2 separate regions of the Homo sapiens genome follow, and region 2 is linked to region 1. Evidence: fine-mapped expression QTL. A gene starts in region 1. The other region holds a variant in brackets. All regions are shown on one strand. Distances are from middle to middle.

Region 1 (11,546 bases):
GCTGGGCATGGTGGTATACGCCTGTAATCCCAGTTACTTGGGAGGCTGAGGCAGAAGAATCACTTGAACCCAGGAGGTAGAGGTTTTAGTGAGCTGAGATCACATCATTGCACTCCAGCCCGGGTGACAAGAGCGAAACTCCGTTTCAAAAAAAAAAAAAAGAAAGAGCCTGGGTTCCTTAACTTATTGTTGAATTTCCCCAGACTTATTTTTGTCTTCTGATAAGCTCTTGCTTGTTACCAGTTTAAGCTATTGCAGCAGGATTTTCTGTTACTTGCAGCTGAATACAAACCTGATAACGCAAGCTACTGCTAAATTGTTATACTTAGCAGAGTTCAACAAGTGCAGTTGGTTCCGCATTCAAAATCCAGTCAGTCATTCCTCACACTGCCCACAGCCGACAGCCGGTACCCTGACAGAACCCACCATGCTTATCTGAGCACTGCAGTGGCTTCCTAACTGGTTTCTGCTTTTGCCGGTGTTCCCCTTCACTCTGTTGTCAGCCAGAGTTCACTTAAGATTGAAATTCAGATCATGCTACTCCTCTGCTCTAATCCTCCAGTGACATCCCATCTCACTCACATAAATGCCAATATCTTTATTCCATCTACAAGGCAAGTAGTATTGGTCTGATATGGCACTCCCTTGACCTCTTGGACCTTACTTCTTACTACAAATGTCCCCCTCACTCAATTCACCCAACTAAAATGACATCCTTGCTATTCCTGAAACAGGAAGATTTTGGACCTGTTCCCCCCATCTGGAATACCACTACTTCATACACCCTTACACTAGACTCTTAACTCGCTTGAGGTCTTTACTCAAAAGCCATCATCTGGCCAGGTGTGATGGCTCACACCTATAGTCCCAACACATTGTGAGGTTGAGGTGGGAGGATCACTTGAGCCCAGGAGTTCAAGGCTGAAGTGAGCTACGATAGTGATACTGCATTCCAGCCTGGGTTAAAGAGCAAGACCTTGCCCCCCAACCCCAAAAAAAAAAAAAAAAAAAGCTGTCTTCTCAGTGGACCTTCCCTGAACACCGTATTTAAAATATCAACACTGGCCAGGTATGGTGGCTCATGCCTGTAATCCTAGCACTTTGGGAGGCCAAGGCAGGCAGATCACATGAGGCCGGGAGTTCGAGACCAGCCTGCTCATCATGGCAAAACCCCATCTCTACTAAAAATACAAAAATTACCCAGGCGTGGCCGGGCACAGTGGCTCATGCCTGTAATCCCAGCACTTTGGGAGGCCGAGGTGGGCGGATCACAAGGTCGGCGGATGACGAGGTCAGGAGATCAAGATCATCCTGGCTAACACGGTGAAACCCCGTCTCTATTAAAAATACAAAAAAATTAGCTGGACGTGGTGGCAGGCGCCTGTAGTCCCAGCTACTTGGGAGACTGAGGCAGGAGAATGGCGTGAACTCGGGAAGCGGAGCTTGCAGTGAGCTGAGATCGCGCCACTGCACTCCAGCCTGGGCGACAGAGCAAGACTCCGTCTCGGGGGAAAAAAAAAAAATTACCCAGGCATGGCAGTGCATGTCTATAATCCCAGCTAAACAGGAGGCTGAGGCATGAGAATCACTTGAACCCAAGAGGCAGAGGTTGCAGTGAGCCAAGATCACACTAGTGCACTCCAGCCTGGCTGATAGAGCAAGAACTGTCTCAAAAAAAACAAAACAAAACAAAATAAAATAAAAATGTCAACACTTAGTGCTACAGCTCTTTTGGAATTTGTCTAGCAGGCTTTCTGGGTTTTGCTGGAAAGCCCTTAACAATTTTTTTAAAAATAAAAATAAGTTAACACTCGATTAACCCTGACATTTCCCTATCCCCTTCCCTGCTTTGAAGTTCCTCCACGTATTAACGTACTGTATATTTTACTTATCTATCTTGCTTACTGTCTATGTCCTTCATTAGAATGAAAGCTTCACGAGGGCAGAGCTTTGTCTGCTCACTGCTGAGCCCTGCACCTATAACAGTGCCAGGCACATAGTACATGTTTAGTAAATATTTACTGATGAATGAATAAAGTCAGGGAAACACCAGATAGGAATCTGAAGGAGAATAAGAAACTGCCAGAAGCAAGTATTAATTGCCTCCTAATTACTGTGAGGACCCTCCCAAGCATGCTAGATTTGCTGAGCCTGCAGCCAGCCCCATAAGGAACTCCTGCATCCTGTATGCTGAGCAGAGCACAAACACTCATAAACTGAGGCCCATGCATGGCGTGACACCACAGTTCCACACCAAAGAGCAAGAGCCATAAAAACAGAACAGATACTTTCTAAATTGCTTTCATCAATCTTACTTTGAGAAGAGGATTTTTTGGCTGAAGCACGTGAACAGAACTGCCAAAATCCAAACTTTGTGAGCAGTGTTTGTTACTCAAAATTAGTGAATACCTCCTTTCTCAACAGCAAAATACAGAGAAATATGACAAATATGCATTTTATTTAAAATAACTATAAAACTATAAATAAACCTAATGCAGTTGATTTCAGAGCATGCTAAGAACCTTTAAAAGTTATTATTCTAGCCAGGCATGGTGGCTCACACCTGTAATCCCAGCACTTTGGGAGGCCGAGGTGGACAGATCACAAGGTCAGGAGTTCAAGACCAGCCTGGCCAACATGGTGAAACCCCATCTCTACTAAAAATACAAAAATTAGCTGGACATGGTGGTGGGCGCCTGTAATCCCAGCTACTCAGAAGGCTGAGGCAGGAGAAGCATTTGAACCTGGGAGGCAGAGACTGCAGTGAGCCGAGATTGTATCACTGCACTCCAGCCTGGGTGACAATGTGAGACTACATCTCAAAAAATATATAGATATATATTATTCTAAACTACTTTTGTTTTTAGAGCATTTTAAATCTATCTTACAATATGAACAGGTTATATCTGGCAGGATACATGAGGAACTGAAATAGTGCTTGTTCTTGGGGACAAAGTTAGGTACTCAGAGGAAAGGGGTGGAAGGAAGATATTTTAATTATTGCCCTTTTGTAATTACAGAATTTGTATCATGTCAATGTATTACTTATGCAAAAATAATACATTAAAAAAAATTTTTTTTGAGATAGAGTCTCGCTCTGTCACCCAGGCTGGAGTGCAGTGGCGTGATCTCAACTCACTGCAGACTCTGCCTCCCGGGTTCAAGCGATTTTCCTGCCTCAGCCTCCCAGGTAGCTTGGATTACAGGCACGTGCCACCATGACCAGCTAATTTTTGTATTTTTAGTAGAGACAGGGTTTCACCATGTTAGCCAGGCTGGTCTCAAACTCCTGACCTCAGGTGATTCGTCCACCTAGGCCTCCCAAAGTGCTCGGATTAAAGGTGTAAGCCACCTTGCCAGTCCTGATTAAATTTTTTAAATAAGGTAATCATATATTACCTTAAAGTAATGAAACAAAATCTATCTCCTTTGTCAAGGCAGCAAAGGAAATTTCTTGATACCCATATTTTGAAGATAAGCAAATGCAGGTTCTGTCAAATCAGCATAAGAAAGAGAAGGCATATTTTTAGAATGATCAAGTGTCTGAAGCAGCCCAGCAGAAAGGTCTTCCTTCCCATCAGGAGCCCTGTTTAGTGTTTACACAAGATACATGCAATGTGTGAACTTTTATGACACCTACCTCCTAGAAAAGCACTACAGTAAATTTCTGGATGAGAAATTACTTACTGAAGAGATAAGCCAAATTGTTTTAAAATTTCTCCAAATATCCAAAAAGTTTTTCCATCCTTTAGAATAATTTATTCCTAAATTTTATTCCAACAAATAAGCTAACACTGCTCTCCGAATCATTTTCTAATTAAACTTTGAAGACGAGACAAGGATCATAACAGAAACAAAGAACAAGAAATATTACTAAAAATTAATCAGTCTTAACAGAGATATTCTTACCAAATGCCATCTGGGACACATCCAGATCGGAAATAGAATACTGAGAGGTAAGAGAAAGGCCTGAACTGCACCAGAGTACTTCCTAACTCCTACTGTACACTCGACACACAGACTTCCAGGGAAAGTCCTGGGGTTCCGCTAGATGTTTTAATGGTCTCTCTTTTCCTGTTTCAAAAATTCTCCCCAAGAACAAGCAACAGAAACCCCTAGCTTCCAAAAAGTAACAAGCTGTCAGCAATGAAGCAAACAGAAACCCTTTCACTGGCACATCTGAGATGCCCACGGAGTCTGCGGACCCCCCGTATTCTGGCAAGCCTGACTGGAATACTGGTAAAATGTACACCTCATTCATCCCTCGGCAATTAACCTCCCCATCAGCAACGTGTTGGTTTTATTCCCAACACACATAGGCAAAAAACTTCAATCAACTCTTCCTAATATTTAAGATAATTTCATTAATCACCACGTAAGTTCACCACTTTACTTGGCAACCACAACTCATTCAAACGCCTGCAGACCAACTTAGGCTTAGATGAGCAGATCTCTTAGGTGGTGCTTAAAATCGTGTTACTACCACCGTGATCATGAACTAAATGAAATGTCCTGACAATGTAGGAAGAGCCTCAAATCTCAGGCTGTTTTAAGTGCCACTAGGAAAAGAAATCTCCCATTGGACGCGCCCTCACTCCCCGCCCCCCCCCTGCCCCGCCACTCCCGCCGAGGCGTCCTAAAAGCATTATGTCATCCACTGCCCCCACATCTCTCCAGCTCCAAACCCCGCCTCCTCTCGAAGTGTCCCGCGCCCCCAGCCCTCTTCCCTCTCAGACTAGAAGAGGGAAGTGGCACTGAGCAAATCTCGGCTCCTCCAAGTTCTCTTCACAACGCAGTTAAAAGAACCCCCGCCCTGGTTTCTCGCAAATAAAAAGAAACAAGTTCTCGCCCCAACTCTTCGCATCCTGCGAAGGGCGAGAGGGCTGAGGCCGTGACTCCCCTCGGTGAATTCAGGACAGGCCCCAACAAGGCTCTGCCTCCCCTCGCGAGAGGACAAGGGAAGACCCAAGTGAGGGAGCGGGGCTGAAGTGGGGGAAGGCCTCGCCCCAGGAGGGGGCGGGTGTCCCTCATGGGCTCTGGGTTGCTGGGTCACTCTGTCTCTGCGGGGCCGGGGGTTCGTGTCGCCGGCCCGCAGGCTGCAGGGTTACCGCCATCCCCGCCGTAGCCTGGGACCCGCCGGGACAGGGAGCTGCAGCGGGCCCAAACTCACGGTCGGTGCAGCGGCTCCTCAGCCACAGCCGGGCCGGGTGGCGGCGGGGGCGGCGGCGGGGGCGGCTGCGGCTGAGGCAGCAGCGGCTGTGCCTGCGGCGGCGGCTGAGGAAGCTGAGGAGGCGGCGGCGGCGGCGGCGGCGGTGGCGGCTGTTGCTGCTGCTGCTGCTGCTGCTGCTGCTGCTGCTGCTGCTGCTGCTGCTGCTGCTGCTGGAAGGACTTGAGGGACTCGAAGGCCTTCATCAGCTTTTCCAGGGTCGCCATGGCGGTCTCCCGCCCGGCACGGCAGTCCCCGGAGGCCTCGGGCCGACTCGCGGCGCCGCTCAGCACCGGGGCAATGAATGGGGCTCTGGGCCGCAGGTAAAAGCAGAACCTGAGCGGCCGTCCATCTTGGACCCGTCCCGGCAGCCCCCACGGCGCCTTGCGTCCCAGACGCTGCGCCGGCGGAGGCGGGGCCGCGCCGGCGGAGGCGGGGCCACGCCGGCCAGCATGATTGACAGCCCTAGCCTGCGGACTCTGCCAATGGCTGGCCAGGGAACCAGCCCGCCCCTGCCCCCGCAGGTTCTGCCTCACACAGCAAGGCCGCTGACAGCGCAGCGCCCCACCCGGGCGAAGGCGCGGGGCTCAACGGAGAGGGGACGGGGCGTGGTGAGACTGTAATGGGGTGAGGCGAAGCTGTGTGTGAAGTGTCGCGGCGAGGCGGGACGAGGAAGGGACGGGGCGGGACTGCATGGTAAGGGAGGCGTGGCGATGCGGGGGGCGTGGCGATGCGGGGGGCGTGGTGAGGTAGGGGCGTGGCGAGGCCGGGGCGGGGCACAGCAGGGAGGCCGCCTGAGGGGCGGGGCGAGACGGGGGCGGGGCGGGGCGATGCTGGGGACGGGGACATTAGGCAGGCCGGCTGAGGGGCGGGGCGGCTGAGGGGCGGAGCGGGATAGGGGAGGGGACTGGCCGGTGAGGGGTGGGGAGGCTGGGGGCGGGGCAGGAAGGTGAGAGGTGGGGCGAGGGAGGGGTGGGGCGCGGAGGGGCAGGGCCATGGAGGGGCTCGCCCATGAAGGACGGGGCCATGGACGGGGCGGGGCCGTGGAGGGGGCGCCGAGCGCGGGCGCAGGCCCATGCGGAAAGGATCCCCCGCCGACGCCTGGAGCGGGGCGACAGCCGGCCGTGGACTCTGAGCCGAGGTGGCCTTGGGGTTTGCCCTCCCGCCACACTGGCCCGTGGCCAGAGCCATACTCACCCGGACAGCCCTGCGGGGAGCCAGCTGCGGGGCTCTCTGCACGGGGAGAGGGTGGGCGAGCTCCTGCGCAGAGCGCAGAGAATGCGCGTGGTCGGCACGACCTGAGGACCCCAAGTGTGACCCCCACCCCACCCCCAGTGAGCTGGAGAGGCCCCTGCAGGGCGGTGTCCACAGGCCTGGCGCCCCCCATCGGTCCCAGCGCAGCGCCCCGGAAGGGAGGAGAGGGTCTGGGGCAGGCCTGGGTGGTCAGCGCCTGCTGCCCACAGAGGCACTGTGATTAGTGCAGCGAGAAGCAGCTATGGCCACAAGATGCCGCCCACAGGAATGAGTCCCGACCTGGGGGCGTTTCTTTATGGGAGTGCACCCCTGCTCTGACCTTCCGGCAGGACCCCCAAGGGGCGTCATTCAGCAGCAGCTCAGCAGAGGTCTGTGGGGCACCCCCTCACGCCTGGGACACAGGCCGTGGCGGGCAGGGTCCTGGTCTCCAGAGCCTCCTGCCTTTTGGGTGGTAGAGGGGCAAACGGAGAGGGCAGCTGTCCAGCCTGCCCAGCAGGGAGTAAGGTTGGCCTCAGAGACAACCGCCCAGCCGGGGGGTGATGCAGGCAGAGAGGAGCCCAGTAAAGCCTACTTTAGCCAGGCCACACCTGCAACCCAGAGTCCCCTGCTCTGTGGCCACAAACAGCACCTCCGCCTTGTCTCAGAGCCTGTCCTAAAGGGAAACCCAGCATTGTCCCCAGTGGGGTAGCAGTAGCCTCCCTTTTCTTGAGAAGGACAGCAGAGAAACAGCTGTTAGTTCCCAGTTCTTGGGAGGCTGATGTGGGAGGATCACCTGAACCCAGGAATTTGAGGCTGCAAGTGAGCTAGGATTGCACCACTGCACTCCAGCTTGGGTGATAGAGCGACACTGTCTCTAAAAAAATTAAGTTCCAGCGAGGTGCGGTGGCTCACGCCTGTAATCCCAGCACTTTGGGAGGCCAAGGCAGGCAGATCACCAGAGGTCAGGAGTTCGAGACCAGCCTGGCCAACATGGCGAAACCCTGTCTCTACTAAAAATACAAAAATTAGCCGGGTGTAGTGGTGCATGCCTGTAGTCCCAGCTATTCCGGAGGCTGAGGCAGAATTGCTTGAACCTGGGAGGTGGAGGTTGCAGTGAGCCAAGATCATGCCATTGCACTCCAGCCTGGGTGACAAGAGTGAGACTCTGTCTCAAAAATAAATAAATAAATAAAGTTCCCAGTTCTCTGCTGTTAATAAGGGCCTTTGTCCACTGTGTCAGGCCTCAAGGTTGTTAGTTACCTCAGTGGGCAGACTCATAAGATGGCCCCAGCACCCCTCACCTCCTGGTATTGACACCCTTGTATGACCCCTCCCCGTGAGCTTGGGCTGTACCTGGTGGCCTGCTTCTAACCAATGGGCAAAGGTGATGGAATGTCACCCCATGACTAGGTCGCAAAAGGGTATGACTTCAGTCTCCCTGGCCCTCTCTGTTGCCTTCTTGGCATGGATGCTCTGATGAAGTCAGCTGCCATGTTGGAGAGGCCCACATGGCGAGGACATAAAGGCGGCCTCTGGCCAACAGGCAGTGAGAACTGAGGTTCTCAGTCCAGCAGGCCATGAGGAACTGGATCCTGCCAACACCACGTGAGATTGGAAAGGGACCCTTCCCCGGCTGAGCTCTCAGGTGGGAGGCAGCTGGTATTTGACTGAACCCTGGCGAGAAGTGGAGCTGGTTAAGCTGGGTCCAAATTCCTGACCCACAGAACGTGTGACGATACATATGGCTCTACACGTAACTACATATAACTCTATGACTAGACATGTGTGCTGCCAAGCCACAGTGCTGGGGTGATTTGTTCCAGCAGCAGATGACTGTATTTGTTTACTTGGGCTGCCATAACAAAGTACCACAGACCGGGCAGCTTAAACAACAGAAATGTATCTTCTCATGGTCCTAGAGGCTAGAAGTCCGAGATGAAGGTGTTGGCAAGGTTGGTTTCCCCTGAGCCCTGTCCTTGACTTGCAGACAGCTGCCTTTCTTGGTGTCCTCACGTGGCCGTCCCTCTGAGCATGTCCGTGTCCTAATCTCTTCTTGTAAGACATCAGTCGGATTATGGCCCACCCTAATGATCTCATTTTAGCCTCCTTACCTCCTTAAAGAACCTGTCTCCAAATACAATCCCATTCTGAGGTTCTGGGGCTTAGGACATCAACCTGAATGAGGGACACAGTTCGTCCCATAACAATAAGTAATAGAGTTGCACCCTAGCAGCCGCTCTGACCTTCTTTAGAGACCTTTTTATCTAAGCAGTTTGCCTCTTAGCTAGTGTATGACAGTCCCTGTCCTTCCTTCAGCTAGCTATGGCCATATAACTAAGTAAGTGCTAGCCAGGGAGATGCAAGCAGAAGTAATGAGTAGTACTTCTAGAAAGGAATCACATAAAATGAAGGGAAAGACACACCTTTTTCCTGCTCCCTGGAATGGGATGTGTTGGCTGGGACTTGAGCAGCCATTTTGGATCATCTGCATAAAAGCCACATCCTGGGGTGATGGGAGCTGGAAGGAGGGGGCCCAGATGACTGTGTGCAGTTGTCATTCCAGCCTGGCCTGGAATTCTTTCATCTGTAAGGGAGAAATACACTTCCGTCTGAGCTGCTGTGACTCCAGGTCATTCTGTTATATGCTCCCAAACCAAATTATTCCAACCCATCCAGGGAGGCAATGGATCATCGGGACTTTACATGGCCACAACAAATCACAACTGCTTCAGCCATGGCTGAGAAAACATCATCTGCCTAGAATTGACTATCATCCTGACAGGAAATCTAATGTGAAAGACTTACAGAAATGGACTGTCAAGACACAGGTTTTTAAAGTTCACAGAAAAGTTTGGCATCATCTAAAAAGAGTAAAGATCAATACTGGGCAGTCTGGCATGGTGTCTCTGAGGCCTAAAAATGGGCACAGTCCCTGAACAGCAAAAACATTTCCCGTAATTTATCCTATGCAAACAGTCAGGCATGTGTGATCAATGATTTATTATAGCAACACTTAGGACAAAAGATGGAAAAAAGATAGATGCTGGGCAGAAGGAGCTGAGTTAAAGGAATCCCAACATAGCCACAGGCAGTCATTAGAATCCTGTTCCAGATGAGCACTTGTGACACAGGGAAAGGCTTACAACATGCTAGCCGACTACACACCATGTAGAGCCTGATAACGTCCCCCATTCTAAAGAAAAAACAGCGTACACATACACAGAAGAGAGATGAAGGCGCAGTGGCTCACACCTGTAATCCCAGCACTTTGGGAGGCCGAGGTGGGCTGATCACCTGAGGTCAGGAGTTCAAGTCCGCCTGACCAACAAGATGAAACCCTCTCTCAACTAAAAATACAAAAATTAGCCGGGCATGGTGGCAGGTGCCTGTAATCCCAGCTACTCAAGAGGCTGAGGCAGGAGAATCGCTTGAACCCAGGAGGCGGAGGTTGCAGTGAGCTGAGATCGAGCCACTGCACTCCAGCCTGGGTGACAGAGCAAGACTCTGTCTCAAAAAAAAAAAAAAGAGCGAGAGAGAAATAAGGTTCCTAGTCACCAAGTCATAGCAGTGACTCTCTCTGGGCAGGGGAATTGAGGGCGGTTTATATCTTAATCTTTGTGCTTTTCCATATTTTTCAAATTTTCAGCAATGAACATGAACTATTCAGGGGAAGATTGTTAAATGAAAGAATCTCACTGGGCGGGGAGCTAAGCATGACACCTGGCCACCTGCCTGTGCCTGTCCTGCCGAGAAGAGAGAAGAGGCCTTGAAAGCAGCCAGAGGGGGTGCACACCAGCCTGGGCAGGGGGCAGTAAGCGGGAGCAGCCCCGACCCGAGACCAGGTGGGATGCACGCGGGGTGGGGCTGGAAAAGAAGGAAACCCTGACGCAGACCCCAGGGGGAAATGAGGAGCAGTCGAGCAACTGGAGAGCAGAGGAGGCTCTTTGGTGGCCTCCAGCCCCACCCCTGAGAGGGCTGAGAGAGGAGCAGGTGTGAGGGCAAAACAGGCAGGAACCTTCCAGAGAAGAAAGCCAGGAGCTGGTAAAGAGCACGGGCCCAGCTGCAGACAGAAACCTTTCCCGTCTCATAGGATGGCTGAGGCGCAGGACAGCGGCGGGGGCGCGTCCTCCTTCATCTGTCCTGTTTCCTTAGGTTCTAGGTGCACCGCTGGTAAGGAGCTTCTTATGTGGGGTCTTTGACAACCCTCGTTTTTAAACTAGAGCATTTCCTTCATTAATATTAACTGTAATCGTTGATATACGTGAGGTCAGTCTTTCTGTATATCCTACCAGCTCTGTTACCTGGTTTTTGGTTAAGTCTGATTTTATTTTTGAACCTCTGTTAGTTTGAAAGTGATCACTGTTGGCCGGGCGCGATGGCTCACACCTGTAATCCCAGCACTTTGAGAGGCAGAGGTAGGCAGATCGCCTGAGGTCAGGAGTTCAAGACCAGCCTGGCCAACATGGTGAAACCCCATCTCTACTAAATATTTAAAAAAAAAAAAAAATTAGCCAGGTGTGGTGGCAGGTGCCTGTGATCCCACCTACTCTGGAGGCCTAGGTGGGAGGATGGCCTGAACCCAAGAGGAGGAGGTTGCAGTGAGCCAAGATCACACCACAACACTCCAGCCTGGGTGACAAAGTGAGACTCCATCTCAAAAAAAAAAAAACATACACCGTTGTCTCCTCTTTTCATGGTCACCCTAGAAATTACAACATTCATCCTCCAGGTATCAAAATCTAACGTAAATCTATTCTCTTCTTGATTATGCAGGGAGCTTACAACATTTAAATGCTATTTTTGGTTTCTCCCAATTTGGAGGGTATTATTGCCATGTGTTTTAATTCCATATAAACACACACATAGGCCAGATGCAGTGGCTCGCGCCTGTAATCCTAGCACTTTGGGAGGCCCAGGCAGGTGGATCACCTGAGGTCAGGTGTTCAAGACCAGCCTGGCCAACATGGAGAAATCCCATCTCTAGTAAAAATACAAAAATTAGCCAGGCATTGTGCCAGGCACCTGTAATCTCAGCTACTCAGGAGGCTGAGGCAAGAGAATCATTTGAGCCCAAGGGGCAGAGGTTGCAGTGAGCCGAGACCGTGCC
Region 2 (11,546 bases), 630 kb before region 1:
ACTTTGCACAGTGATCATTGCAGCCCTGAGATTCCTGGGACACACATACCACACACCAGCCACAGCTCTGGGCACTTGGCTTGTAGCCGCCGCGACACTCGTCTGTAGTTTATAGGGGCACACAGAGGACTGAGGGAACGTGCTGGAAGCCATGCAGATAGCAAGCGACCGAGCCGGGGTTTGAACCTGGGCGGGGGCCAGCTCCAAGGCCTGTACTCTCGACCTCTGCCCCAAGTCTTGTGGCCCCCGTGACCAGGCGACTCTGGCCTTCTGGGCCTGCCCTACTCTAATCGCCTCAGTGGCTGCGCTGGCCCCGCAGTGGCTGTGCTCTCAGAGGCAGCAGCGGGCAGTGCTGCTGGGACCGTCTTGGAACTCCGCTTGGGTGTGGGGACTGGCCGGGGCAGAGGGGGAGGAGTGGGCGGCTGGACAGGATGATGGGAGCAAGGTGAGGGTCACAGGGCCCACAACTGTGAGAGGTCCCGGCTGATGTGCCAGTCAGCATTCTCCACTGAGAAACAGCTGATGGGAGAGAGGTCCATGTTGAGACATGTATTTTAGGGAATCAGCCCACGCAGTTGTGGGGGCTGGCAAGATCCCCCTGCGGATCAGGCTGCAGACCCAGGCAGGGCTTCTCCACCACAGTCTCCAGGCAGAATTCCTGCTTCCTCCACGTAGGCTCAGAGTTTGCTCCGAGGGCCCCAGTGGATTGGATGAGGCTGCCGCAGGCTATGCGGGGCCATCTCCTTTCCTTAAAGTCAGCTGACTGCCAATGTGCGTCACATCGCAAAACACTGGCACAGCAACCTCTAGACATGTGTTGGGATCATGGGGGACCACGGCCTGGCCAGGTTGGCACATACAACCGAGCAGCATGGTTGGGAAGGGACCACAGCAGGCTTGGAATTAGGGGCTCCAAATTCCAGCACCAGCTACCAAGGTTTCTGCAACTTGGAGATTGTTGCGCTAGGTGTGGCCTCAGTTTCCCCATCAGTAAAGGGGGGATCCTGTCCCTCAGTATATTCCATCCTCCCTGTGCTATAGAGAGCAGAGGAGAGAAGACCTAGTCCCTGCCCTGAGTCGAGGGGGGCCTGCTGGATTTTGATGTCTGTGTAGGAGTTTGCTAGGCACCCCAGGGCAAGGATGTGCCCCAGGTGGCCGGGTCATGGGGAGAAGCAGAGGGTGTTGGGGAGGTGGAGGCAGGGTGGGCTGGCTCTGTCCTTCTCCCTGCCACAGGCTCTGGTTTGGGGTGAGGAGGAAGAAGTTTGTTGTCCACAAATATGACCCCGTCATTTCCCAGCTCAGGGACTGCCTATACAGACAACATCCGAAGACCCCAGTATGATTTCTGGGCTGCGTTGGTTAGGGGAGCGCACTGGGCTGAGGCCAGCTGGGACGAGGACCCACAGGGTAGGGACGGGGTAGACAGGGCCAGCCCTGGACAGCCCCGCCCCTGGTGGCCCCAGGATGACCACAGTTGGATGCTTGAGTTCTGGGGTGTCCCCTAAAGCAAAAGCCTCGGTGTTGCCGTCATAGCTCAAAGCAGGTTTGGGGCAACTTTGTGATACTCCTCATGGTACGCCCACCTCACTTCCACCACTGGTGACGTCGAGAGCCAGGTAACGACGCCCCATCCAAGGGCCGTGAGAGGGAGTGGTCTGAAAGCACCAACACCGGGGGCTGGCACAAGGTCTCACTCATTCATTCCTGCATTCATTCATTGAACAAATAGGTCAGAACTCCTGCTGTGGGCCTGGCCCTGCCTGGACTCTGGGGAAACCGGAACAAACAGCCAGCCTCACACATCCCTGCCCGCCGTGTAGCAGACCTTGGGCGGAGGAGCAGGCAGCCTCTGAATAGTCAATCCACGGCCAAGAAGGTCCACAGAGGGCGAAGACGGCCGCACTGGGGACGGGACGGGGCGTCTGTGCGGGTCTCCTTCTCCTCTGCCCGAGGGGTCTGCTCCCACCCTCTTTCTTACCGAGCAAAGCATGCCCAGACCTTGATAAGCTCAAGCCTGCTCCTGACCACGTGGAAGGGAGCAGCTCCACACGGGCCAGTCAAACTCTGCAGACAGCACAGGCTTTGCATGTGGGAGACAGAGCAGCCGGCTCCATCACCAAGTATGTTGCTGATGCTCATTTTCTCGGTTTTTTTTTGCCCAAAATGTCAAATTGCTCTGCTGCGTGCTCCTGATAGAGGCCTGACAGGGCCGTGGGAGAAGCACGGTGGAGGGTGGTGCTAGGAAGACAGGGAGCTCGACGAAGACCCTGGTGGGACCCCTAGGGGATGTGGATCTGGAAGCTTCCTGGCCACCCCAGGAGCTGCAGCTGAGGAGCTGGCAAGGGGGGTTGGGTATGCCATAAGTGACACAGAGCAGGAGCAAGAACAGGCCAGGCTGGCCTCGAGTGACCCTGGACACATGCCCCCTCCAAGCCAGGCCCCACACCTGCAAAATCAGGGTGGGTGGCCATCGCCACCAACACAGCGAACCCGCAGCAGGACCCCCTTCACTCCAGGGTCCCCACTGCCACTCTGTGTCTGAAGGCCCCCCGCAAGGAGGACCAGAACCTTCTGTGTGCCTCCCCGCACACACTGAGTTAGAATTCCACTGGAATGCGGAGCGTGGTCAGGCGTGACCTCCCTCCATGCCTCCTGACAGGAGGCACAGCCTTCTCCCACTCCCCCACCGCGGTGTGCTGGACTAGCAAATTCCAGAGCAGAGAGGCTGTGGCCATGGAAACCTGGCAGACCTCAGATTCCCCGGGACAGGGCAGGAGCAGGGCCGGGAAGGGCCTGGCAAGCCCACTGCGGGGGGTGGGTGGGCAGGATTGTCAGAGGATGGCCACTGTGGCAGAAGCCTCAGAAGATCAGACGCTTCCAGAGTCTGGACGAGCCGCCTTCCCGGCCGGTGCTTCCCGGCTCTCTGCCCCCTGGGTGAGTGTTCTAGGTGGGGCTCCTAGAAGCAGGGATGGGTCCAGTCTGATCCCTCTGGGTGTCCCAAGTGCTGGATACATGGTTACAGGGCAGCAATGTGGGGCCGCTCAGCTCTCTCCTCCAATTCTCTGGAGGAAAGCACCAAAGCAGGCTCAGAGAGGAGAAGCCACGCCCCCAAGGTCACACAGCTTGGACTCTGCGGAGCAGAGATCGTAGTCCTGGTCCTTCTGACTTCCAGGCAGCAGACAGCCCCGAGGCGTCCCAGAAATTAGCGCAAAGTTCTGCAACCGGGTTAGGAAATCATCACCCTGCAAACCCTGGAGCGGGGAACTTGGTTGAATGAAATTCAGGTCAGGAAGGCTGGAGGCCTCCGGGCCTCCTCCCCTGGATGAGCACGCTAGTGCTCCGGACGAGGCTGTGAGTCCGCAAGCCTTCGGTAGAGGATTCTGGCTGCTTCCTTGTGTCTGGGGCGTGAAATCCTGACCATGACCTTCAGGAAGCTCGTCCCCCTGCCAGGAGGGCTCCATTGGCCCTGGCCCAGGTCCTCGGTGGGTTTTCACAGTACCTGCAGCTCCCCTCACCTACTCCATGACAGCCAAAACAACCCCAAACAGAGACCGATTATTAATTTGAGCCCTTCTCACCTCCTGTTACCCCCAAAATGCATCCAGACCTGGGGAGGTTGTGGGAAGGGGCCTCCTTTTCACAGTCCTCCAGGTCCCTCTTAGCACAAAACAGCATTTTGGGGTGCGGCCTTGCTCCTAGACCGTGGTGTGGACAATCAGCCAAGAGTGCAGCACCCCTCCCTGAACAACCCCCATGACGGAGGTGGTCCCGAACACGTCGCTCCTGCTGAATCATCACCCCTAGCCCAGAGCCAGGCACTGCAGGCCTCAGCACTTCCTTGTTGAATAAATATCATGGAAGGAAGCCCTAAGAAGTCAGTGGCAACAGCTCGTATATGTCAGAGCAGGCGTCTCTAGGCTCCCTCCATTTCCGTCCTAGAATTCAATGGCTACCATAACCCCCCATCCCCAGTAGCTGATTCCAGCAGCGAAACCCTTGTAATCCATGTCCCAGTGGGAGTCCCATGCCACACATTCACAGAGGGCTCCCACGGCCAAAGTCTGGATATTAATTAGGATCCAAGAGTGTGACGTGATGAGCAGTTCTGAGGCCTGGATCTTTGCTTTCACCTTTGAATGTGTGAATCATGGAAGTCCGGGCAGCCTGGAGATGTGCTGGCATGCCTGGGACCTGAGCTGGTCTGAGGTGGAGCAGGTGGGTTTCTGATAAATCCTATATGCCTGAATGTGTGAGTGGATGGGTGAGGGGATGTACAGGTGGGTGGGTGGGTAGGTAGCCTGGGGAATGATTGTGCAAGGCTGGGGGAGTGGATTGTGGTTGAATAATTGGATGGATGGATGGATGGATGGATGGGAGGGCCCAACAAGGGGCTGAGAGGCCTGCAGCCCAGCCCGCTGCCACCAGCACTGGCTGAGGTCCTTGGAGGGTGCAGTCCCAGCAGGAGGGTTGGGCATGGCTCTCTGCCGGCTTGGTGTCCTTCTGGGGCACACAGGGATGCTGGAGGCTCCATCCTGGTTTTGAGACCCCAGGGTCAGAGGCTCCAGGTAGCACCTGCGACATCCTGCACTGAGTCTTGCAGAATGGGATGGGATGCAGGTGGTGAGGGGAAACTCTAGTGGGCCGAGTGCTCCAGAGCGAAGGCGGGCTGGGGTATCTGCAAGGGCTGGCCTGTTGGTCCCTCCCTGATGTGAAGCCCTGCGGACCTCCATCCCTTCAGTGCTGGTGGGTTCGTTCACCCCTTCTGCAGTAAATTCAGGGTGGACAGGGGAATATCACCTTCCCCTTTAAAGAAGAGGAACCAAGTCCCAGGAGGGCAGAAAGACTTCTGGGGGCCCTTCCACCCTGCAGAGGCCAGAGGCAGCTCCGGCCCCCTGGCCACCTCCCCGTTCTGTCTCCACGATGGTTTCAGGAGGAAGTGGGCGTCCGCGGAGGCAACCACATGGCCCTTGGCTTGGCTGTCCCCATCACCAGCCCCCAGTCCCCTAGGGCGGGGCCAGGCTCTATTTCGGGAGTGAGAATGGAGAGAGGCGGGGGAACCACAGGCTCCCCAAGGGACTGCTGCCTCACAGGAGTCATCCAAAAAATTCCTGCCATGCAGCCCAGAGCAGATGGAGCCAGTGTGTAGCCAGCAGAGCCCCCAGCGCAGTGGCTGGAGGAGGGAGGGTGCGTGGGCGTGGGGCGGAGAGAGCCTGTACTGGGA[G/A]CCAGAGGCCTGGGTACAAAGCCTACAGCTTCAGTGTGCTCTGAGAGAGTAGGCAGAAGTACCTCCCGTAGGCCTCGCTCTTAGCTCCTAAATTGGCTCACGCTGGCCACAGCTCACACTTGAGGCCCCACACCAGGCACTCATCTGCCAGCCACCCCTGCCTGCAGGAACTACCATCGGCCAGGACCTAAGTTGGATGGATCTAATCACCCCATCTCCAGACACGCTGTACTCGCAGCCTCAGCTCTCTGCCCTCTGCTATTCTGCCCGGTATGACCAGAACCACCCTGGACACAACCCTCCGCCACTGGCACATTCTGCTCCCAGACACTCCAGCCTCCTCCAGAACCCCCTCCATGGATATTCCAGATGTGGCGGTCCTGCAGCCTTGGACTCCCTCGGCCCAACACACTGATGAGTGAGTAAGAGTGTAGCTGAGCTTCCAGGTCCTGCAGCCTCCGGGGAATGTCCAGGGTGTGGATAGACACTGGGCCTGAAGCTCCAGGCTGTGGTCAGCGCTGGGATGGAAGGAGGCAGGTGCACAGGGAGCAGAGGCCGGGGACACAGCTGACTGACCCTCTAAGCATGGACAGAGGAGGAGGTGCTGGAAAACAGACGGAGAAGGAAGGGAGGGAGTGGCCAGGAAGCGCTCTGCAGCAGCGACTCAGCGTCCTGCATCTTCATGGCATCCAAGGCCCCATGCCCAGAGGAGTGGCGGCAGAGGAAGCTGGGTATGGCTTGTGGGGTGCAGTCCCCCCATCACTATCTGGGGCCATTTGTGCCAAAACCAATGCACTGCCACAGCCCCTGAGTCCAGCACATCCTCGCACCCTGCGTCCCTGGACTGTGGTCCACCCTAGCCAGCAGCACCCAGAGCTCTCCTAACCAGGCAGGAGCTCCATGTGACAGATGAGGAAACTGAGGCCAGGGCAGGTGGCGCCGACCTCACTCCAGAATAGGCACGGACAGTGGGACCCAGAATGCCCACGGGCACCATGTTGGGAGCTGGATGGGCACTGAGGGTGAGGCTGGACCCCTTTCTGAAGGAGGGACGTGGTGTCTGCTCCTGTACCCCATGGTGGGTGCTCACCATCTCCCCAGCCCACAGTTTACTTGGACAGCCCCACAGTGACCCACTTTCTCCCCGAAATGGGCTGGATCTGCCTCTAGGTGTTTTCTGTCTCGGCCCAGGCTTTCCTAACACCGGCTGGTGCCATCCAAGCCTCCTGCAGGGTCAGCAGATTTGCAAACCACAGGTTTCTCCAATTTCTTTGGAGAAAAAAAAAAGGAAAAAAGAAAGAAGGAAATAATTTTCCAAAGTATTATGTTTCTTCCCAATAAATCAAGGCCACCAGGCCTGGCAATGGCCCCAGACTTGTCGGGCAGCAGAGCTTGGTGACACCCTGGGATGGGCTGGGAGCAACAGAGCTTGGTCACACCCCGAGATGGGCTGGGGAGGTTTGGGTGTCCAGCATGGGGAGTGGCTCCTACCTGGAGCCACTGCCAGGACGGGAGCATCTCCAGAAGCCACCAGGAGGGGATCTGGCCCAGTGAGGTGGGCAGGGAAACTCCTGTCTACCCCCGCACGGATGGCAGGGCCCCTGTGTTCACAGGGTAGGGAGGCATCACTGCTTTCCAGGTGTGAAGCGGGGGTCTGGAGGCCTCTCTAAACCAGCTCAGTGGCCACCGTCAAAGTTCCTTCCCTTTGACAAAAGTTTCCGGAGGCTGTTAGGGGACCACCCCCAGCAGTCCTGCCCCACCCTGACCCCTGGAAGGCCTGGGTCCTCCACCACCAGTGTCAGGGACGGGCAATCAGGGCTCACAGCTTTTCGGGAAGGGAAAGATGCGTGAGGAACATGGTGGCCATGAGGCCCCTGGGTTTGGGGCAGGGCTATGAGGCACCCAGCCCAGCACGGGGCCCACCTGTGCTGAGGAACTGACAGAAGGTCGCTGGCCGTCCTTCAGGGACACGGTCACATGGTGGCTTTAACAAGATGTGTCCACATCCTGATCCCTGAGCTGGTGAATGTGCCCTCACATGGCCGAGGTTGTGAGGAGGCTCAAATCTCATGCTGGACGCTTGGAACCGCTTGCTGCCCTAGGAACTGCTCTAGTTCACAGCAGCCCACCAGACAGAGGGAAGCTGCCGCACCTGGGGCCTCTGTCCTAGTGGAGAGGGCAGGTAGAGACAAGAGGGACAAGTGGTGAAAAGAGGGCCATTGTGTAGACGCTTCTCTGTGCCACGGAGGAAAATGAAACAGGAAGGGGCTGAGAGGTGTAGGGTGGGGGCTGTGGCTTACAAAAGGTGCTCAAAAGAGGTCACATTAGATGGGGATGCAGGAAATGGGGTCAGCAGCACATTTCTGGAGGCTGCCTTCCCAGCAGGCAGGCAGCAAGAGCGAGGACGTGGCGCGTCAGATGGGAGCTGCTTCCGGGCCCCACCTCCAATCCAGGCCTCGCGGGGGCGAGACTGGAAGGACCCAAGCACTGTCCCAGCCATCCCATTGTCAGCCACACAGCCTGAGGCTTGGTCTGGAGCCCGCTGGCAGCCCATGGGCCAAGACCGGCAGGAGGGCCCCCTCAGAGGCCGTTCCAATAACCCAGTGGAAAGGTGGCAGGCTGGGAGTCAGCGAGCGATTGACTTAGGGTGGAGGACACATCTCTGGATAAGGGATGGTCAAGGAATGCCAGGAGGACTGTCCTGTGGACATCACAGTCACCGACGCTGGGGCTGCAGCCTGCCTGCCGCTAAACACCAGGACAGCCCTGGAGAGTTGGTTGGACATTTATAGCAGAGGGAGCGTGTGTTTCATCCCCTAGCCTGCACCTCCCAACCTGGGGCTTTAGGTTGGAGAAAGGGGGCTTCCCCACCAAGTAAGCCATGTGACTGGACGTCTCTGCACCTGAGGCAGAGATCATAACCCCAGGGCAGTTTGACCCATTTAGGGGAGAACAGTTTCCCTCCCTCACCTCAAAAGGCTCCCACTCCACCCACGCAAAATAGCAATTAAGAGTCGAGCCAGGAAAAAGAGAAATAATTAATATTTTCTCCAAAGCAGAGTTCCTTGTTTAAGAGCTAAATAACACAGAGACAGCTTAACCGCTACCCAGCACAATCAATTCTCTCTGGTTCTAACCTGCTCATGTGTGTTTCTTTAATCAGAGCTATTAAGAGACATTTCTGAGAGCTTCAATGTGGGGTTGTGCTGGGTTTTTGATTTGCCAGAAATGATGATCGGGATGATTATACGCCCACACGAGAGGCGCCTCAGCAGAGGGTCATCCTGGCTTCACAGTCCACAGAGCTGGAGGCAGCGCCGGCCGTGGGCACTGACTGGTCCAGTCCTCCCAGCAAGTTCCTTCCTTTCTCTGTGCCTCATCTGTGAAATGCAGATTCCACTAACAATCTCTAAGTGGTTATGGGAAGTAAGTGGCTTTTGACATGCAGAGGTGATAGAAATAGCGATCTTTATCGCTATCTGTTCGTAACAAGCACTGGGTCTAAGCACCTTAGATTTACTCGTTAGCTGAAGCCCTGCAAAACCCCCACCGCTAGATTTCACCATGATTCCCACTTTACAGATGGGAAAACCAAAGCACAAGGTGTAACTCACTTGCTGTCCAGCAGAGTAGCAGGTGGGGACACTGGGGGCTCAGAGGGTCATTGGTTGAGTGTGTGGTGCTCGGGGGAGTCCCAGGGTGGACCTTGGGGAAGAGAGTCCACGTGGACGTCCCCAGGGAAGAGGTTGAGGGGAGGCCCTGGAATTGCAGGGAAGGGAGGTGGAAAGAGTGCCAGTCACATGAGGCTGGTGTGCTTGTGGTGGGGGCGCCCGGAGGAGGCAGACACGGGGCGTGGGGTCCCAGCCAGCTGTCCTGGGAAGCCCAGACACCCTCAGGAGCCTGTGTGTAAGGGGCCACCCTCCCCATTCTCCTGGGACTAGGGGAGTTTCCTGGGACATGGGATTTTCTGTGCTAAAACCAGGACGGTCCTGGGCGAGCCACGACAATAGGTCACTCTATGAGTTGCTCCCAAACCGCAGAGGGTGCGAGGAAGCCCAGGAAGCCGCCAGCCACGGCTCCCCACCCACCTGCTGCCTGGCCTCCCACCGCTCGGCATCTCGCCTTCTGGGAGGCTGTCTCCTTGCAGGAGTTTATTTTCACCCACCGATGGGATAATTACAGGGAAGAGGGGAAAAAAATGAAGTTGACAGAATCACAGATTAGAGAGAAATGCAGCCCACTTCCTCTGAGTTCCTCGGTGCATTTAAAGAAACCTGAGATCATCAGTGCCTTTGTCTCTGCACACCGCGCCCACCGGTAATAGCTCTGGCAGCGGCTCCTGTCCTTAGCTGGTCCCAGGGAGGCAGGAGAGTCCTGGGAGATTCCAAAGGATGGGGCCCAGCCCCGCGGCCCGTCTTCCCGTGGGGCTGGCATGTCGGCCCTCCTCTCCAGGTCTCAGGTGGCAGTTTGATCCTTGGTGGGGACGTGCCTGGCACTGACAGAACCCAGCCAGGTCCCAACATCCCTTACAGTGATGGGAGCTCTCCCTGAAGTCCCCACCCTGGGCCTCGCCCCCATTAGCTACAGAAAGCCCCCCACACTGACAGGCAGAACTCCCAACTTCCCCTCCCCACCCTCTCTTCTTCCCATGATGCCAGATGGGGCCTCTGGAGGCCGAAGGGGTCCAGAGCCCTGGGCTGACTGTTCCAGAAGGCGGCTGCCCCCACCCTGCCCCCATCTCTGCTGCTACCGTGCCATTCTGTGCTTCTCTCAGGGACAAGCTGCAAATGGCCTTGGGATGGGGACAGGTTCCGAGGTCAGCCACCCTCCTCCAGAGCCACCCGCACCCTCACTGCTGTCCTGCCCCTCACCCTTCCCCCCCCTCTTAATTAATGGACTTCAGTGTTTAGAGCAGTTTTAGGTCACAGGGAAACTGGGCCTGAAGCACAGCACGCAGCTCCGCACACCTCCCGCCCCACAGGCTCCGCGAGTGCCTCGTGCACTGGTGCGGTGGGGGCGTCTGCCGCACTGAGGGGCCATATGGACGCGTCGCCATTAGCTGAAGCCCACGGTCGGCACGAGGGCTCCCCGTCTGTGTGGCACCTTCTACGGTCGTGACAAATGTCCAGCCCCCACCGTGACGGCATCACGTGCTCCTCCTGTCCACCCCTCCTCCCTCTCCTTGGAGCCCCCCTTGCCAAGCACGGGGGAGGGGGGCTGGATTCAGAACTCAGGGACTCCAAGGAAAGGAGCAGACCTGAGAGCTAACGTGGGGTGGGGCCTCTCTGGGTGGGCCAGGCCTGCCCCGCAGGGACAGCTGGGCCCCCCGATCTTGGCCAGCACCGAGGGCTGCTCCCCTGACCTGGGGCAGGCCCTGCACTGAAGCCCCTGTGGAGGCCTCAGCTCTGCACTCCCCACCCCTTCCCCTGCAGCCCCTGCCCCTGGAGTCAGCACTGAGCTCCCCCCAGGAGGCTGGACCAAGGATGCTGCCGGCCTTAGCGGAAGGAGGGTCACCCCACGGGGAGAGATAGGAGCAGAGGCAGATGCAGGAGCGGGGGAAAGGAAGAGTGTTGGGCACCAAAATGGGGGGTGCCTGGGAGGGACCCGGGCATCATAACGGGCGCCCTCCCGTCGTATGGGCAACCTCTTATTTTTTGGATGGGGAAACTGAGGCCCAGCTTGGGAGAGGTTCACCCAGAGTGACACAGTCAGTCCGGGCAGTGGGAGGGGGGTCAGTCCGGGCAGTGGGAGGAGGGTCAGTCTGGGCAGTGGGAGGGGGGTCAGTCCGGGCAGTGGGAGGGGGGTCACACAGCAGAAGCATCTCCTGCAGCCCAAACACCAAGCACCCCAGAGCCCCTGAGACCTGGGGGCCACGGGATCGCGGCCGAGGGAGACTGAGGCCAGCCTGGAGGTCCTCTCCTGCCCTCGGGAGATGTGTGGCTGGGCAGGCGGCTCTCCTTCTCCAGGCCTGTTCTGTCATCTGCAAGTGGGCCTCCTAATTGTGCAAATACCAGCAGGCGGTCTGAGTTGAAGGGAGCTGGGAGTGCCCCACAGGTGCTGATCTGTGTTACGTGTTACCTCCCTTCCCCCAGGGAACCCACCAAGAACTCCGGCAGGCGCAAAGGCAGCGGTGCAGGAGGAACCAGGGTTGTGAGGCTGCTAACGCCAGAGCTCGCCTGTTTCTGTAGCAACCTGGAGCTGCGACTCGCTTCTGGAGGGGACGGTGGGGCTCCAGGATGACCTGGGATGGGGGGCGCACTAAGGCGAAAAGAGGGCCAGGACCCAGCCTCCCCCACACAGCCCCTTGCAGCGGAACCCTGATCCT

Direction of the effects. Alleles are on the strand shown, and positions count from the first base shown. SD is a standard deviation of normalised expression in the study named.
For the expression in pituitary of the gene that starts at base 5,578 in region 1, allele A in region 2 goes with a lower level than allele G (small effect, 0.28 SD a copy in GTEx).

Evidence for each region. PIP is the estimated chance that this variant, and not a neighbour inherited with it, causes the effect.
Region 2: its variant is fine-mapped to the expression of HTT in pituitary (GTEx, PIP 0.96).

What each region holds. Positions count from the first base shown.
Region 1 is chr4:3,068,713-3,080,258 of GRCh38, reverse strand. It overlaps HTT (huntingtin), which reads right to left and starts at 5,578. Exons shown (of 67, transcript NM_001388492.1): 1 at 5,171-5,578. The coding sequence starts at 5,433. It also overlaps HTT-AS and the pseudogene RNU7-33P. RefSeq lists enhancers at 446-585, 2,263-2,402, 4,683-4,732, 4,743-4,972 and silencers at 5,133-5,202, 5,313-5,752, 5,903-6,522.
Region 2 is chr4:3,701,847-3,713,392 of GRCh38, reverse strand. No RefSeq gene overlaps it. Among named protein-coding and RNA genes, the nearest start is that of LINC02171, 30 kb to the right of the region's middle. RefSeq lists enhancers at 8,706-9,612, 9,613-10,520. The variant G/A (reference allele first, on the strand shown) is at 5,222.